Homo sapiens: one gene and its partner. The protein of the gene in region 1 purifies or fractionates together with the protein of each later gene. This does not show direct contact. Each region holds a gene or a part of one and is shown on either strand. Other genes may lie near its edges.

The links.
Region 2: the proteins of PPP1R9A (region 1) and CCDC89 purify together in Homo sapiens (co-immunoprecipitation; one large-scale study listed by IntAct). This does not show direct contact.

The regions. Positions count from the first base shown.
Region 1 is NC_000007.14:95,249,408-95,254,126, reverse strand, and holds part of PPP1R9A (neurabin-1), read right to left. Parts: intron 4,102-4,719; coding exon 3,872-4,101; intron 2,366-3,871; coding exon 2,269-2,365; intron 2,169-2,268; coding exon 1,997-2,168; intron 1-1,996. UniProt on the Homo sapiens protein: Binds to actin filaments (F-actin) and shows cross-linking activity. Binds along the sides of the F-actin. May be involved in neurite formation. Inhibits protein phosphatase 1-alpha activity.
Region 2 is NC_000011.10:85,683,253-85,688,289, forward strand, and holds CCDC89 (coiled-coil domain-containing protein 89), read right to left. Parts: upstream 2,944-5,037; 5' UTR 2,879-2,943; coding exon 1,754-2,878; 3' UTR 596-1,753; downstream 1-595.

The sequences.
Region 1 (4,719 bases):
AGTGTTGCTAGGGAAACTGATAATTATGTGGCAAAATGGAGGGTGTAGAATAGAAAAAGGGTTCAGATGAAATGTAAGGTTTTGATCCAAATCAGCATGTTAATAGTATAGTGTGTTGATCTTCTGTAGTCATATAATTTAATAAACACCATTAATTATATGTTTGAAAAGATACAGATTTCTAAACTGAAAGAAATGAATAGAAATGAAAAGCTACTAGATACTGCTCATACTTTGAGTATGCCACAGCAGGAATATGTATTTATTATATATAAACTATAATTTTTTAAAAATTAAAATATTCAAAAAGGTAAAAAATTTGGTTTGATTCCTGATGTTTTTCTTTAGATATCAATCTTATAGTGTTCCAGGTATAAAAATTATAATTCCATAAGAGCTCAAATAAATTACTTTTTTGGCTTCAAAGACTAAACCATATAGTTTCAAAACAGGCCTTAAAGTGGTGAAGAAGGAAATACTACTTTTAAAATAATATGCACAGTAATATCAACCCAGAGAAGCTAAATACTCTTCCTGAAGTCACACAGCTCCTCACTTAGTCGTAATGCTAATGCTAAATCCTCCTCTTTCAGCTGCCTAAGAGGCACTATTTATAAATTACATCCTATTTAGGGAAAACCCATTAGAAGGATATAAACCCAGTGAATGGATTCAAATCTCTAGATATCATTTTAATTTTAAATGAAGATTTCTAATCCTTTCCATTTTTAATGGCTAAGAGCTTAGTTCTAAAAGTTCATGATAGGATATAAACACTTGCTTATCAGGAAAACTTCACTGGAGACAGTTTAATATGTGAGAAAGATCACGAAAAAACTAAAAAGCCCATTATAACAGGGTTTTACTGCACGTCAAAGTGTTGCCTCTGAGTTGTCGGTCCTGTCATGACAACCCTGCTGCACCACATTCTTTTATTTTCATTTTCCAGGGACTACTATGTATATATTTAAAAAGATGAAGCCACACATTCCTGTGTATTTATCTTTATAATTATTATGTGTTTTCTAATTTGCAAATATACCACAGATATTAAAACAGTCATTCATGTTCATACACGTGCAATCTAAGAATGTTGTGTGTGTAAGAACATAAGTAATTTATTTATGGTTGGTGTATGAATGAAGATAATCATTTATAATACCAAATGTTTCCAGTGTTTTGGTCTTACTTGGTCTTTGACATGAAAGACCTAAGAAGTATACACAGTACACCATGGTAAAAGCACAAAACTATATGGACTTCGTTAACTACATGAATCTCAAGTGCTGAAAGCAGCAGTCTGCCTTCTGATATTATGAAAAAGATCTTTATTCTAGTGACTTAAACATTCTAAAGCTTGGCTGGGCGCGGTGGCTCATGCCTGTAATCCTAGCACTCTAGGAAGCCAAGGCAGGTGGATCACCTGAGGTCAGGAGTTCGAGACCAGCCTGGCCAACAAGGCAAAAGCCCACCTCTACTAAAAATACAAAAATTAGCCAGACGTGGTAGCACATGCCTATAGTCACAGCTACTGGGGAGGCTGAGGCATGAGAATCGCTTGAACCTGGGAGGCGAAGGTTGTAGTGAGCTGAGATTGCACCACTGTACTCCAGCCTGGATGACAGAGTGAGACTCTCAAAAAAAAAAAAAAAAAAAAAATCTAAACCTTAGTCATTAACACATAAGTAGTGTAGTTCATCCTAGATAGGATGAACTACAATTTGTAAGGCAGTTTATTAAATCTGTCAATTGTATGATGATTTTAAAATAGTATTTGGCTTATCTTTAGTTGTGATTTGTTAATGCTACATATTAAAGTATTTATTTTTGATAAGACGAGAGCTAAAATGATTGACTCCTATTTTGATAAGCCTTTTCTTCTTTCCCATAGTAGGAAGGTATTTCCAACTTTTAAATCTCTGGGTCAGAAAAAGAAAAATAAAAGGCCAAATTACACAGTCATCAAAAATGATTTTTGTGGTTGGGTTAAACAAACCTTGACTTAGGCCATCTTGGCAAGATGTCTGCTTGCCATCCAAGTTCTCCATGGTATCCCCTTTAGAGACTTCACCAAGAGATGTTCTTCTCTCAAAGATGTTGTTATTATTGTTAACTTGAGTCCCATTTTGCTTCAGTAGCCTGAATACCTCAGCTTCCAAATCTCTAATCTAGGAAAAACAAATCCATTTATAAAACTCTAAACTAGCGCTCCCCTCCAAGTACAGCAAAACCATCTTATTATTTAGTGTCTTAGGGAACACAACTTACCCGCACTTGGAGGCCTTGCACTTCCACAAGATGAGCTTTTTCCAAATCTTCTATTTTCTTTCTTTCTGCTTCCTGTCTTTTGATGAAATCAAGCTCTCTTAAGAAGAAAATAATAGTTCTGATTATATCATACACTCAATAAATGAAAGTTCTTATCTGAAACAATAAACTGCATAGTAGGATAAGCAACTGAACAGTTATTTAAATGGACAACATTCAATCAGTTAGAGGAAAAAGTATAGTAATGAAAGAAACTAAAACATCTTTAATGGGTCACAAGGCAAAGAAAAATGATTCGATTCTGCTTACTATAATTTTCTTTCGTAGCTCCTGATTCTAGAACACCCATACATATTTAGATAGGAAAGACTGCACTAATGACCCACATTGGGTAATTTAGTGGAGATAATTACTTGTCAGGTAGAAATAATTCCATTTTTCCAATGTCATAAGCATAGTATAGTAAACTGATGTAACTAGATAAGAGTTCGAAAAAGATAATTGTAAGATTTCTATGAATAACAGTGAAGAGGGGGCTGGGTGGGTCAGAAACATCGAGAGGGGCACTCACTTATAGACCTAAGGATAATATGGGGAGAAGAGAAACAGTTCCATTTTGAAAACCTGGAATAGAATATGCAAATTTAGCAAAATTTACTATAAAATTATTTCATGAAAAAGAGTTTGGCAAATAGTTAAAACAGTGATGTATTGAATTTATAGTCACAGAGAATAATTACTCCCCTTTTAACAAGAAACTTTTGATAGCAAAACTCTTTTAAATATTAAAAACATTCTTCCACATAATAGGAAATAAAAGAAATATGGTTAATCTTACATATATGCTTAGCTTCTGAGGCTTGGCATGGAAGACCAGAAAAGGTACTGGTACTACTTATTTGTTCTAACTAGCCAGAAGTAACTGATGAAAAAAATCTAGTAAAAATCTCCGTGGTCAGTCTCCGTGACATTACACCGAGATCCAAGAGATGGAAGCAAAGGAGCAGTAGCTCAGAAACAGCTGTTGAAAATCAAAAGCAGAATGTGGTAATGGTCTCTCTCCCTGCAGTGAAAGGAGGCCCTCCTGATTCTCTCAACAGCTGAGAAATGCAGAGTGGCAGGGCAGGGGGCCTTGCTAGTCGATATGTGCACTGTCTGTAGTGGGAAATTCTGTAGTTACTGATCTAAGAATAGAGAGGAGCAGCCTGATTCAGGCCCCAGCTGTGGCTTGCGTGCTCCACATCCAATAGTCAGTCATTCTACATGACTTTCCGCTGGGCTTCTTGTTTCTAAATCATAGAGGTGTTTCAAAAAGAATAAAGAAATTCAGATGTTTTAACAGTTATAAACAACGATTAATTATCAAAAATAGCAAAGAGGCCCTGGCAGCCAAAAACTATAAAATATACAAAACATAATCTCATGAAAAAGTGATAGAAGTGACTTCCAAAACTTAATGTGTATTTATGCTGTAACTATGCTCCTGGATAGGAAAGATATCTCTAAGGTCATCTTTTCTGTTCCACTAGATATTACAAAATTATTGGACATAAACCTTCTTTAGACAAACATAACTATTCTTTAGTTATTAGAAGCGGCTTACTTTTGTTGAAAATCCTTGATCAACTTCTTTGCCTTGTTGTATTTCTTTTCCAAGGCCTGATACTGGCTTTGAGTCTCTTTGAGATGCTCATTCACTGTGTGGCATAATGTTTGGGCCTCAATCCAGTAGCTTTCCAACTTCAACATTCTTTCCTTATTCTCTTCTATGTTTTGTTGGAGTTGGGTTTTTTCTAGTTCCCACCTCACTTTCTCATTTTCTGCTGCCTGCAGCTGGAGAAAGCAAACGTCAAGGCAAAGATAATTTGGCCACTTTTGTGGCAAAAATCTCTCATTTTTATAGCATGTTGTAGATCAAGTTCTATTATCATAAACAATCACTGAATCCACTTGAGATGAGAAAAGCAGGTATTATTTTTATAATTCCACAGATGATAAAATGGAAGCCTTGAAAAGTGAAATGATTTGTCCAAGGTCACACATTTGATAAGTGATAAAACATGGATTGGATTCCACCTCACACGATATTTCCATCACACCAGGTGATCTGAAATTCTGTGAGCAGTAAAAGATGTTTCAGAGTTTGATATATCCAACGAATGTCAACATGTTTTGAGAGTTTTTAAAAAATATATAATTATATATAAAAAATTAACTAAAAAGGGAGTGGAGAGGGCCAGGGAGGAGAGAGGAGTTAGAAGCACAGTATGGCTTAATGGTTAAGAGGGGATCTCTGGAGTCATTCAGCATGGATTTGAATCCCAGTTCTGTCATTATTGGCCATTAAACCTTGGACATGTAATTGAAGTTCTCCAAGACTCAATTACATCATCCATACAACAGAATTGTGATATAACACATCAGAATGCTTGAAATAGCTCCTTGGGCATA
Region 2 (5,037 bases), on another chromosome or scaffold:
GCCAACCCAACCCTTACCACCAGGCAGGGCTAGATGCTGCCTATGTTTTCCCTCTGTGATCACAGTATATAATAACAATAATAATAATAATAATAATTATTATTATTATTTTTGCCCTTAGACTGTATGGGGGCTCTTCCAGGGCAGTAAAAATGCTTCTTTATGCTTCTTCTTAGTGCCTACCCCAGCACCTGGCACTTGGTCGCCAAAAATTATCTTTCAGTGTGCTGTAGTCATCAAAATCCAGCTCCCCCAGTGACCAACTGGCCTTAAGCAAAATTACCAAAACCAGTCTCCTCTTCCTTAAAATAGAAATGAACACGCTTTCCTTCTTGAATAGTCCTAAGAATTAAATAAAGTAATTCATCCAAATTGCTTCAGCGCAATGATAAATAGTATGGGCTCAATAAAGGATATCCATGATTAACTTAGCTCCTATATTCTGATTCTTGGTAACCTGTAGAAGGAAGTAAATAGTCCTTTGAAGCTAGCAGTGTGGTTTCTATTTTGATGAGAAAAGTTTGTATTTAATAGCATAATCTTAATAGAAGTGTGAAAAAATGGGTGTAAAAAATTACCTGAGGCAAGGTAACACTTGCTTGGAAATGGTTTTACTAAAAAGGCACCAAGTCATATTTTTTAAGTAAATTCATTATGTAACTTGGTAGCCTTCAGCAAAATGGGTGAGAAAAATATTACATTACAATCTATTTTGAGAGGTATTCATAATAATGTTTATATATCAATACCTAATTACAGGAAGATAAGAAAATATAACTACCTTTGAGAACTTTTTTAAGAACTTTACATATATATATATCATGTTTTTATAACTATTCTTACAAAATGTAGGTATTACTACAAAAATGCTGCAAGCATACATACACACGTTCAGCTTAGATTTTTTTAAAAAAGGAAAATCTTAATTACAAAAAATATGCTAATAGAAACAAAACAATTTCTGAGTTACTCTATAGATCACGTCTGCTATGATTTGTTACCCCAAATTGTCTAATTGTCTATTAGCATATCGTGCAATATTAAATTAAGCTACTGATATTTGCATTATTGCACATCTAAATCCTCTTTTTAAAGAGAAAACCAAAAAATGGAATATTATCTAAGCTTGCAGAAAAAATAAAAGTTGTTTTGTATAACTTATTTGAATCATATTGCTCATACAGAATAAAATTGACCTTCTTTGTTAAAGAACTTGATCTCAATCATTTTCCAAGCTAGCGCAAAATAAAATAAAGTCAGACACTTTTTTTTTTCTGCAAAGCATTCATGCTATTATGCTGATACATGTTTGCTTACAATCTCAACTATGGGAGACTATAAGCCTAACTATCTACAGTGGGTAATTGTGCTAATTATTTTTCACAATGGCACATCTCACTGCACTTAGATTGACTTAAATCATAGAAGCTGCTAATTTAAAATCCTAACATAAATGAAGATATCTGAGGTTGAGAATTAATAACTTATGGGTAGGAGAAGATACTACTAGTAAATTTAAGATTTCTAAGGCACAGAAGGAAATCTGGCAAATCTTGTGTATTCTAGGTGTAGAAATGAAAATTAATAATGGCTTTACAATAATAACAACAATATCATAGTAAAGTAGCTTTTCTTTGAGTTGCCTTTTGTGCTTGAAAGTATAATAAATGGGATATCATCTTTACTCTTGCCATAATGCTAAGACGCAAATATTTGAATTCTGAATTGCAGGCCAGAGGAAGCAGAAACTTCCCTATGGAGAGAGATGGCGGAGTTTGCCATTGAGTTCTCTCTCCTTGCTTAAAAGATCCAAGCTGTGCTTTTTGAAGGCTTCAGACTGCAGCCTGAGTTCATCGTAGGCCTTCTGGATCCCATCTACTTTGCGCTGAAGCTCCCTGACTCTCAAGTTGCTGTCCACAGCCACTGCCTCTTGCTCAAACCGCTCCAGCGCATGCTTCCTGTCTTCATTTGCTATCTCCAACTTTTCCTCAAGCTGGCAGATCTCTGCCTGTTTGTTCTGAAGCACTTTGCCCCTTTCAATGGACAGCTGCAGCAACTCCTCTTTCTCTCTAGTGACGGTCTGCAGCCTGGCCTGCAGCTCCTGGCTCAGGCTGCTGTGTGTCTCCTCTGCCTTAGCTATCTGCTCCACAGCCTGCTGGTGCTGCTGCTTGAGGGTCTGCAGCTGGCTGCGCAGCTGTTCTGTCTCCTTGGTGTGGGTGCAGGCCTGCTGGCTCTGTAGCTCCAGCAGCTCCTTCTCGCGCGCCTGTGCCTGGCAGGCATCCTGAGCACACCTCTCCTTCAGCGTTTCTAGCTCCCCAGTGAGGGCCTCACACCGGACTGTGAGCTGTAATACTTTCGCCTCCTCATCCTTCAGAGCCTGGCTGAAGAGGCTGCTATTCTCCAGCCTCAGCTTCTCATTCTCCTCCCTCAGCTTGATGTTCTCACTCTTGTATTCATCCTTGAAGCGGAGCATCAACTCGTGGTTGGCTGCTAGGGTCATAAAGCGTTCCTCTAGTTTCCGACTGTACTCACCCTGGGCCTTGAGCTTCTCAGCCTCCTGCATCATCTTCTCCTCCAGCTCTGCATTGAGCAGCTCTAGGATCTGGCAGCGCTCCAGGGCCTCATCTGACCTCCGCTTCAGGATGCAGATGAGCTGGGACTGCTCTTCAATGCGGGAGCGAAGCATAGCCTTCTCGCTCCTCTCCTCCTCTGACAGTCCCCGGAGGTTTGCCAAGGCTTCCCTCAGACCGTCCAGTTCCTTAAACTCCGTCTCCTCTTCCTGGTTGTTCAGTTTTTCATTTTGCTTCTCTAAGCGTTCTTCAGGGGGCGGGGTGTCCATCCTGGGAGCCTGCTGTTTCTGGAGCATAGGCGCTCTCATCCACTAAGGGCTGACTACAGTCTTTTCCCCTCAGATTTCAAACGCTGCAGGGTGTTGCTAGGGACTCTTGGCACTCCCCAGCAGTTGGTTTTTCCAGTAAGGAGCCCTGTAATTGGTGGACAGGTCTTCAGAATGCTATGAAGTAACAACAGGGGAATCTGGGGGAGTCCAGAGCCAATCTGGTCGGGTTACTTTTGCCTTTCTAACCAATCACAGCTCTCAGTTGTCAACTGTCTCAGTGTCTGGCCTGTACAGCACAGAGATGCCAACCCCACTCAATCTCCAGCCAGCATCAGGGGAGGAAGCCTGACTCCACCTAATTTCTGGTAGTAGTAAACAAATGAAGCAGGCAATGATATATTTATCCTCCCTCTCCCCTCTTCAGTTATCGTTTGAATAAATTACTGTTTGTGGAAACATGGTTGGCTCCTCAAAAAATTTCAGTCTATGAATACAAAGTAGTAGTGGTATTCTGAGAGCCAGGACCCTAAAAGCCTGCATATCTGCACCCGTGATGTTTGGCACAGCTCCCTTTTGGTATTTAAGTATTAAAATAGAAAACACCAGTGAAATTTCTTTTGTTGTTCTTAGCATTGTCCCCACCTGGGCATAAATACTCTTTATTAGATATTTAACACCCCCTGTTTTTACCCATTAGCAAAATAAGGTTACAGAAAGAAGCTTAGTGAACCACACAGATAAACATTAAAACAGAAAAAATAAGATTCAAATGAAGCTTGCCATTATATGCCAAAGTCAACTCCTGATAGATTAGTTAAATGTAAACAGAAACTAGAAGAAAATGAAGGTAAACATCAAATCTCTGGGGCTAGGAAGGATTTTTTTTTTATCTTAAACATTATGTAAGATCAGAAAGGGAAAGCTTACTCAAAAAGTTATGTATAATTTTTTAAATTATGTGACTTCTGAGGTCTCTCCAGCCCCTTCTTCCACTGGATTTTCTTGACATTTTACTCCTCAAACCCAAATATTGAAGCCAAACCCAAATCCACTAACCAGCTCTCTCGCCCTATCTTTAGGTGTTCCTCTACTTGGAATGCCTTTCCTACTTTGTCCCTTGTCACTCTAGTAAAGCTTTTTATTCTTAGTTAAGAATCGTCTCTGAAGCCTATTCCTGGCCCCTACATGTCCAATTGGTCACTCACATCTTTTAGTGCATCCGCTATAGCTATTTGTACTTCTGGTGGAGGATGTGAAAATTTTATTGCAGTCACTGTTTATCTGCCAGCTTCCCTCTGTTAGACTGTAAGATCCTTAAGGGCAGGGACTGTGTCTATTTCATCCTTGATGATTAGACTAGTGCCTGGCACATGGGGGAGATTCAGATAAATGTGTATTAAGTGGATGTTGAAGGTAAAAATCAAATTGAGAAAAATATCCCTAATATGACAGACACTACTTTTTTTTTTTTTTTTTTTTTTTTTTTGAGACAGAGTCTCCCTCCATCGCCCAGGCTGGAGTGCAGTGGTACGATCTCGATTCACTGCAACCTCCGCCTCCCGGGCTCAAGCAATTCTCCTGCCTCAGTCTCCTGAGTAGCTGGGATTACAATTACATACAACCACACCTGGCTAATTTTTGTATTTTTAGTAGAGACGGAGTTTAACCATGTTGGTCAAGCTGGTCTTGAACTCCTGACCTTAAATGATCCACCCGCCTCAGCCTCCCAAAGTGCTGAGATTACAGGCATGAGCCATCGCACCCAGCCCAGACACTACCTTTTTTAAATAAATATTTTATACATATCAACGAAACATTAACATCTAAAAAATAAACAATTAAATTCACAAAAATGGCCAAGAACTGAACGTCTACAGTGATCCAATAAATACAAGTTAAAATTAGACATAATTTCGGCCGGGTGTGGTGGCTCACGCCTGTAATCCCAGCACTTTGGGAGGCCGAGGCAGGCGGATCACGAGGTCAGGACATTGAGACCATCCTGGCTAACACGGTGAAACTCCGTCTCTACCAAAAAAATACAAAAAATTAGCCAGGCGTGGTGGCAGGCGCCTGTAGTCCCAGCTACTCAGGAGGCTGAGGCAGGACAATGGCGTGAACCCGGGAGGCGGAGCTTGCAGTGAGCCGAGATCGCGCCACTGCACTCCAGCCTGGGCAACAAAGCGAGACTCCGTCTC